2 separate regions of the Homo sapiens genome follow, and region 1 is linked to region 2. The links come from fine-mapping of genetic effects on gene expression. Tissue or cell type: blood mononuclear cells. Region 2 holds a variant in brackets; the other region holds the start of a gene. Each region is shown on its reference strand, or each on the opposite one. Region 1 holds the start of SYCP2 (synaptonemal complex protein 2). Region 2 overlaps MGA (MAX dimerization protein MGA).

Region 1 (4,346 bases), not on the chromosome of region 2:
TGAGACTATTTTATTTTACAATGTGAAAACTTGATTTAAAACTTTAAATACTTAAAATATGTTGTGGGGGCTCCATTTATACTCTTACCCTAGGGCCAGCAACTGTTGAGGCAGGCTTGCCCATTAGCTATGCTTTATCTGTTTTCAGAACTAAAGCAATTTGAAACAGTGTATTTTACAAAATGCCCTGAGACATTAATTACAGCACAGAAAAAAGTACAGCCAAAGAGGCACATAAAGCTAACAAGATGGTTTTAGTTTCTAATCTACTTTTGCACGAAGTCAGTTGGGGAAAAACAAACCAAGGAAAGCAAACTGAATAATCAGGTTACACACACACACACACGCATGCCTCAAAGCTGAATGCATACAGGCCACAATAGAGTCAAAAGCACAGCACTATCCACAACATCAAACAAGTTAACATTTGCAAGTGAAAGAGAAGGCTAACTCTAAAAAGAAACAAAAGTTATACACTTATTTTTTCCAGCCTCATAAGGAAACAATTTAAAAGATCTTTAGGAACTACTACTATGTAACAGAACGACTTCGGAAACCGAGAACAGAATAATAATGTTTCAAGAGAAGCGTGGATTTACCTGACAAGTAAGCAGGCTCTGGGCTCCAGTCTACTGAACTGGGGGACTGGTTAGCGAGCAACACAGAGAACTAGTAAGATGATGATTGTGTATCTGCAGGCAGATAAAAGCGTTACGGATAAAAACAACAACAAAGAAAACAATTTGGCAGATGGGGGAGGCAAAGATTTTCCCCCAAAGGAAAAACTGCTGAATGAATGCAAGCAGCAGTAGATAATTCAAAGTCCCCTCTGCCCTGGTAACTAACATAGCTAAGGTGTCCAAAAAGACATTAAAGGTGAATGAAGGGGAGGGAAGGCGTCCTCCTCCTCCCATCATTACTAAAAAATGTAGGCCGGGCGAGGTGGCTCACACCTGTAATCCCAGCACTTTGGGAAGCCGAGGCAGGTGGATCACCTGAGGTCAGGAGTTCGAGACCAGCCGGGCCAACATGGAGAAAACCCGTCTCTACTAAAAATACAAAATTAGCTGGGCGTGGTGGCGCGCCAAGTAGTCCCAGTTACTCCGGAGGCTGAAGCAGGAGAATCGCTGGAACCCGGAAGATGGAGGTTGCAGTGACGCGAGATCGCACCACTAAACTCCAGCCTGGGTGACAGAGCGAGACTCCGTCTCGGGAAAAAAAACAACAAAAAAAAACCACGCTGCCGTATTCGCAGATGCTCGGCCAGCCTGGAGCCCGGTCCAGAAAAGGCCGCACGTGGAGCCACGTGTCGCGCATTGAGCCGCCGCGGGACGCATCAGGCCCAGCTGCGCGGAGGGGCTGGCGGCCTCAACCGCAAGGAGAGGCCGCAGGTGGGGACGGCGGGAGGGAGAGAAGGGACTGAAGGCGCCGAGCAGGAGGAAGGTTTTGCGCGCACTCCCTTCTTCCCTAAGTGGAACCGGCAGTGGCAACAACGAGGCCGAAGGCGAAGTCCCTGCTCCCACCGCCGGCACGGTGACCCTTTTCCCAGGGTCACCCCCGAACCAACAAAGCACACACACACCCGAGATGCGCCCCAGGCCGCAGCGCCAACCCCCCTTCAGATGTCCCGGAGACAGGCGAGCAGCGGTCCCCAGGGCTCCCGTCGCCACCGCTTCTCCCGCACCCCTCAGCCTCCTCGGGCCGGCGACGCGCGCAGCCCCAGGCCTGCTCCCCGCTCGCCAAGCGCACCGCCCCGCGCCTCAGCCACCTTGACCGAGTCGCCCACGCGCGGGGGCGGCTCCGAGCGCCCATTTCCCATCCCCGAGGCCGAGGCTGGCCAGGCAGGTGCTGATGGGGAGCCTCGCGCCTGCGCGAGCCACCCTCGCCGCGAACTCTGCACAGCCCACGCCCTGGCCCAGCCTCGGCGCCTCCCCTCCGCCCACTGCCGCAGAACCGCACCCCCTCCCCCTCGGCAGCTTCCACAACGGCTCCGCCTCAACCGTCGGAAGCTTCTCGCCTGCCGGCTTGAAAGGCCAAGCCGAAGCCCCACCCTCCCTCCGCGCCCCGCCGTGGGGGAAGCCCACCCAGGCACTCTGCTCAACCTGCCTGCGGCAGGAGGCGTCCGCGTAGTGTCGGTGGAGCCGCCCCCTATGCCGCCGAGCGTCGCAACTCTGCGCCTCAGGGACCGCCGCAGCGCCTCCGGCGAACGGCGGAAGGCGGGAAGCGCCCGTCCAATCCGCGCCAGGTGCGGTCGATAGTGCGTCCAATCGGCGTCGCCGCCAGCCAGGTCCCGCCCCCCCCATCCCCCCCACCCCCGCCAACGCTCGCCGGGGTCGCCCGAGGCCTGAGCCAAGGGGGACGCTGTGGGCGCGGCTCAGGCCAGGCCCTCAGGTTAGTGGGTCCCCGCTGTCCCCGCGCTTCGGCCCGTCCTCTCGCGCTATGCTCTCCTGATGAACGCCCCGCGAGCGGAGTCACCCCCGCCAGCGAGGAGACTCGCTGCCTTGACTGGGGCCCTGGTCCCGGGACAGGCGAGCAGGAAGGGATGGAAGGGACGGAAGCGCGGGCGGGACCAGGAGAAGCCCATCCCCGCGCTATGCGTCCCCAGAGCCACTGGGACCCGCGGCTCCAGCCAGCCCTGCAGGGGCGAGCTGGACCGGGGGACCAGGGCGCCGGGCCGACGACTCCTGGGTGAGGCCTGGCTCCTGCCGGCAGGGGGCGCAGGGCCGCCTGGGCTCCTGGGTGCGGGTGCCGGAGGGCGGGAGAGACCGCAGGTCCGGAGACGGGGTGCTGAGCTGGGTACCCAACTGTGTATTCCTAGGCTCTTTCAGACGCTTCCATTTAAGAGATCCGTTTAACTTATGCAGCCAGCGGGTGCTTGTGTAAAAAATCGCAGGCCCTTCTGAGACAGGCACAGCCGCGAAAGGGTCTCCTTGCCCCTTGGCTCGCAGAGGGCGTCGGTGTTCGGCGCTCAGTCTTCTGCGTGTTTTCCCCGTGCTCGCGTTCTGAGATGGAAACTGTTCCACGTGCACTGAGATGCAGCTCGGTCTTTCTAACAGCTTCGTAATTATTTAATCATGTGGATTAACTTCATCCGAGGAATTCAATCCTCCACTGATGAGCCTACACTTCTATTACAAATAATACTGCAGCAAACCACCTTTGGATTAATATTTGTGTCGGATCAATTTTTAAAAGTTGAATTGTATGTGTAGTTAAACTTTTATAGGTATCTTCAAATCAAAATTTAAAATTATATTTTAATAACATTTTAATTTCTTATCTAAAAGGCACTAATTGTTTAAAAATATGGGATTAAGATTTAAATGTGCGGTGGAAAGCACCTGAAAAAAATAAACACAAGGTAATAGAATCAAAGCTCAGTTGTGGACCAGAGCAGATCAAATCACAGTAAATAAGCTCTCAGAGGTGTTTTAAATATTCTGCTTAGCTAGAATTACCAACTTCTTGACAACTTTGTAACTACCCCCATTGAACTTAATTTTGATATCTTAGTTTTTTAATTCAGAGCTGACAGATTACATATGCAATCTAAGGTACACAGGTGTACGCAGGGATTTGAGGGGATTTTATATGTTCAAAGCTTTCAATGCTTTTGAATTATACGTTTAAGTACTAATAATGTATAACACAAAATGTAAGAAGATCGAAGAGTGCTTCAAAATTGTGACCTGGCAATTTTGCATAATTATTTTCATACCTAGTTTTCCGCCAATAGATCTAAGATCCTTCATGGTGGAGTTGCGAACGCACAGAAATTTTCCTAATACACTTCAAAAATTAATAGTGATGATTTTTTACCTTGCCGCTTTTTAGTTGAAGAAAAATGTTAGTCTTTTTTATTGCTTCATGTGTTCAGGAAGCCTGCGGATTATTTAGTAAACATCCGTAAACTACAACATGGAAGAAAAAAAGGATATCATTAATTTTACTGTTAATTTTTTTTAAAGGTTTTAGACCGTGGCATTTCATGAAAAACCTTCTCAATTATAATCAAAATTTGGAAACTATGTGCCGTGGTTCACACATATACTCCCTGCACTTTGGGAGGCTGAGTTGATGGGATTGCTTGAGGCCAGGAATTTGAAACTAGCCTGGGCAACATAGCTAGGCCCTATCTCTACAAAAAAACAAAATTAGCCAGGCGTGGTGGCATGTGCCTGTGCACCTAGCTGCTCTACGCCGGAGGCTGAGGTAGGAGAATTCTGCTTGAGCCCAGGAGCTGGAGGCTGCAGTGAGCTATGATTGCACCACTGCACTCCAACGTTGGTGACAAGGCAAGACCTTCTCTCAAAAAAGAGAAATATCATAATGTGGCGTTCAATTAA
Region 2 (4,392 bases):
GTTTTGTTAGTGTAACTGTTGTAGGACAAATACCTTTATCCTTGATACTTAGTAATTCACGCAGGTTGTATTAGTAAAATTATACTGGCATATAGAAAATTTGAAAAGAGACGTTCTGAATTAATGTCATAGTCAGAAAAGGTTTTTCTAGCTGAGCGCAGTGGCTTACGCCTGTAATCCCAGCACTTTGGGAGGCCGAGGTGGTGGATCACCTAAGGCAAGGAGTTTGAGACTAGCCTGGCCGACATGGCAAAACCCCATTTCTACTAAAAATAAAAAAGTTAGCCCGGCGTGGTGGCGCGCGCCTGTAATCCCAGCTTCTTGAGAGGCTGAGGCAGGAGAATCATTTGAACCTGGGAGGTGGAGGTTGCAGTGAGCTGAGATTGTGCCACTGTATTCCAGCTTGGGCAACAGAGGGAGATTGTCTCAAAAAAAAAAAAGTGCACTTTTATATTAGAGTAGCAAATGTGTGGAAGTGTCTGATATTATTGCAAAGTTAGCTTGACTTTCATTAGATTGGCTGCTTCTAAGTCACTAAGGACTTCTCCATTAATAATATGATTGATATAGGCTGGGCATGGTGGCTCACACCTGTAATACCAGCACTTTGGGAGGTGAAGGCGGGTAGATCATGAGGTCAGGAGTTCAAGACCAGCCTGACCAACATGGTGAAACCCCATCTCTACTAAAAATACAAAAATTAGCCGGGCATGGTGGCGTGTGCCTGTAATCCCAGCTAGGAGGCTGAGGCAGGAGAATCGCCTGAACCTGGGAGGCAGAGGTTGCAGTGAGCCGAGATCACGCCACTGCATTCCAGCCTGGGCGACAGAGTGAGACTCCATCTCAAAAGAGAAAATAATATTAATATGATTGATCTACTTAATTAAAAAACTTATTATTGCAGTTTACTGTTGTGCATGCTATGTAAATGCTTCTGTTGATATTTCTTATACTCTTGATGAGGAGAACAGTATTTTCTCTACCTTATATATTGATTGACACTTTGAAAACAGAGGTTTGCCTGATACAATTTCTAGTGAGACTAGACTCCCTAAAATACAAGCATGGAAATTTTTTGTTGTCTTCTGCCCAGGACTCACAAAGCCACCATAGAATGTGTCTGCATAAGCAGTCAGGCAACTGTAAACTTTGTAAACTTTGGGGAAGCTGCAGAGTAGGCTTCAGCGCAGTCCCAAGGGATCCGGGAGGGGGTATCTGACCTATTTCTGTATAGCCTGAAAAGTTACAGTAAAGTCTACTTTCAGGGGGAATGATCACATTCTTTGTACCAAACTCAAGGCAGAGATATTCTTGATCTCTGTGGGAATAATCACAATTTAACCAAAGTAGCAAAGAGTAATTTTGTTTTGTGTCTCTGAAGATGGAGTTGCTTGCTGTAGCTGGTCTCCTCACCAGTTCCCTGTTAGAGAGTAGATTCTACCTCACTCCATCTCCCCCAACCCCCGATTTTGAAATGGTGAAAAGGAAATATAGAAAAGGTTATCTTCTCTAGAGTTGCCTGGCAATATGACCTAGAGAACATGGGTAGAGACTTGGGAAGTTTTTGTTTTCTTTCTTTAAAAAAAAAAGAAAAGAAATCAACCCCCACAAAAAACAACTGTGCTGGTACCCATGATGGGCAGTCTGATAAACTCAGGCAGCAGAGGGGATCTTTACTTCATTTGTTGGTTCACTTTCTTCTGACTATTTAGTTAATTATGTCTAGAATAAGAATGAGTTCGTACCAACATTCAGTTTGAACCCATGTTTTATCCAAGAGATGAAAATAGTATTTTCAAAGCTAAGCTTTTTGAAAATGAAAAACTGTGAGGTAATTGTGGCTTAGGTTATTGCAACAATGATTGTCTTATAACTTAAAGTAGATTTCACTTATATTTTTCAAATATGAAGGATGCTTGAAAGGACCCTTGTGTGAGAGCTTCATTATGTCTCTCTGGTCTTATCAGAGAGATTCTGTGGGACACTCATTTTTGCTGATGAGGTTAATAGCTTAACCAGAATGCCTTATTTACAAGGAAAACAATTGGATAATTCTAGTTGTTTAGATTTGATGATAACTTTCACATAACTAGGATGCAGAAATGATGAGTTTCCGATTCTCTATTTTCAAACTACAATATGAAGGAGATGAGATTAGTTCAGAATATCAGTTGACAGCATTTTTCTACCTTCTGATTACTCAGATTATTCTAAATGGAAAAAGTCTACTTCTTTTTCCCTTTTAAATCTGAAAAATAGACTTATGAAAACTTGTAAAAATGAAGCCCCTGTCAAGGGAGAGGAGTTAGCAAGAGAATTTTATCTTTACAGAATTTCTCTTTGCCACTTGTTTCAGGTTAATGGTAAGAGTTACCCGCAGGCTAAGTTGCTATTGGGACAGATGGGGGCATTGCATCCAGCCAATAGGCTAGCTGCTTATATCACAGGCAGGTTGCGACCCTCAGTCCTGGACCTCTCAACCCTCAGTACTGTCATCTCCAAGGTAGCATCCAATGCCAAGGTGGCTGCATCCAGGAAACCACGTACCCTGTTGCCTTCAACATCCAATTCCAAAATGGCATCCTCCTCTGGCACTGCAACAAATCGCCCTGGGAAGAATCTGAAGGCGTTTGTC[C/G]CAGCAAAACGGCCAATTGGTAAGTTGGGGTGTATGTATGGTTTGGAAAGGCCTATGACTTGGTGGTGGGACAGTGGGTACAGGTATGGAGGTTGTAAAAATTAGAGAAATATGTACTTTGGCATTATTCTTATTCTTGTTGTCTGTCTTGCCTGGACTTTTTTGATTGTTTGGGGTTAACGTCTGATAACCTGCAATATTAGATGAATTGAGTTGTTTTATAGTTAATTTCTTGGTTTTATATATATTTTTTATTTTTTAATAACACTGACTTGAAGGCAAGTTTTATAGTTATTTTTAAGGTTTTCAGACTGGTTGTTATTAATGTAGAAAAGACTTAAGGATTTTAATTTTGTTTCTAAAAAGGGAAGACATTTAAAAATAGTTTACTATTATACTAAATTATTTACTAAAATATTTTACTAAATTAAAAATAGTTTACTATTTTCCTGTGAGGACTGGTGTTTCTGGCCTCTTGTTGAACTCTTGCTGGTGCTATGTAAATGCTTCTGTTGATACTTCTTAAACTTATGAAACCAAGGAGCTAGCAAAAGCTAGTGGTGTAAGTAGTATAGGCTTAAAGTGGAAAGCTCCTATAAATACAATTTTGAAAGTGTTGATTTATTCCATTCATCTCTGTTCTATGAATGAAAATCTCTCTTTTCCTTAACATTTAAATGCTGAAGTCTGTAATAAATTACCTTCTTGAAACATTTGTGTTTTAGCATTGAGAGTATCTATAGTTGGTTTATTGAATTCCTCTTTTTGTTGTTTCAAATCTGTTAGGAATGTTAGGTAAGAGTGTCAGTTGAAATCTCTGGCTGAATGGTTAGAGTTGTGTGAAGATAGAAGATATTTATTGTTTGCCTTAAAACCTATTTTGGCCGGGCGCGGTGGCTCACTCCTGTAATTCCAGCACTTTGGGAGGCCGAGGCGGGTGGATCACGAGGTCAAGAGATAGAGACCATCCTGGCCAACATGGTGAAACCCCATCTCTACTAAAAATACAAAAATTAGCCGGGAGTGGTGGCATGCGCCTGTAGTCCCAGCTACTGGGGAGGCTGAGGCAGGAGAATCACTTGAACCCGGGAGGCAGAGGTTGCAGTAATCCGAAATCGTGCCACTGCACTCCAGCCTGGTGACAGAGTGAGACTCCATCTCCAAAAAAAAAAAAAAAAAAAAAAGAATCTATTTTACCTTTTATTAAGGCAGCTTCAGTTGTGATTAAGGGGAGTAAAAAAAGCAATCCTATCCTGATCTGTTTGGAGAAATGTCTTTATATATTTTAGGAATATGTAATACGTAAGCATCTCATAATAGCACAGCTGTAAAGAGGTGAGAGTGCTCAGACAGGAGGAAATGGTAGAAACAAGTTTTTACATTAGAAATTGGGGGAAACAAACCCTCTCATTTTCTTTTATCTGTATTAGGTGATGAAGTTTTTGCTACTGTATTGTCTTTTTAGTATCCTGACAGTTTGAATATATTGCACAGTCAAAAGAATTTTAGTAGGAACACTCTATTTAATTTTTTAATTTTTCTTTCAAGACAGAGTCTTGCTCTGTCTCCCAGGCTGGAGTGCAGTGGCACTATCTCATTTCACTGCAGCATCCACCTCCTGGGTTCAAACCATTCTCCTGCCTCAGCCTCCTGAGTAGCTGGGATTACAGGCACGTGCCACCATGCCCTGGTAATTTTTGTATTTTTAGTAGAGACGGGGTTTCACCGTGTTGGCCAGGCTGGTCTTGAACTCCTGA

What was found. PIP is the estimated chance that this variant, and not a neighbour inherited with it, causes the effect. A credible set is the group of variants that fine-mapping cannot tell apart.
Region 1: it holds the start of SYCP2, and the variant in region 2 is the best candidate, but not a certain one, in a credible set for the expression of SYCP2 in blood mononuclear cells (TOPMed, PIP 0.53).

The regions. Positions count from the first base shown.
Region 1 is chr20:59,931,463-59,935,808 of GRCh38, forward strand. SYCP2 (synaptonemal complex protein 2) reads right to left here and starts at 2,175. Exons shown (of 45, transcript NM_014258.4): 1 at 2,107-2,175; 2 at 600-692. It also overlaps a transcript of FAM217B not described here. RefSeq lists a silencer at 2,466-2,865.
Region 2 is chr15:41,737,550-41,741,941 of GRCh38, forward strand. It overlaps MGA (MAX dimerization protein MGA), which reads left to right. Exons shown (of 24, transcript NM_001400225.1): 14 at 2,357-2,654. Among named protein-coding and RNA genes, the nearest start is that of MAPKBP1, 35 kb to the right of the region's middle. The variant C/G (reference allele first, on the strand shown) is at 2,636.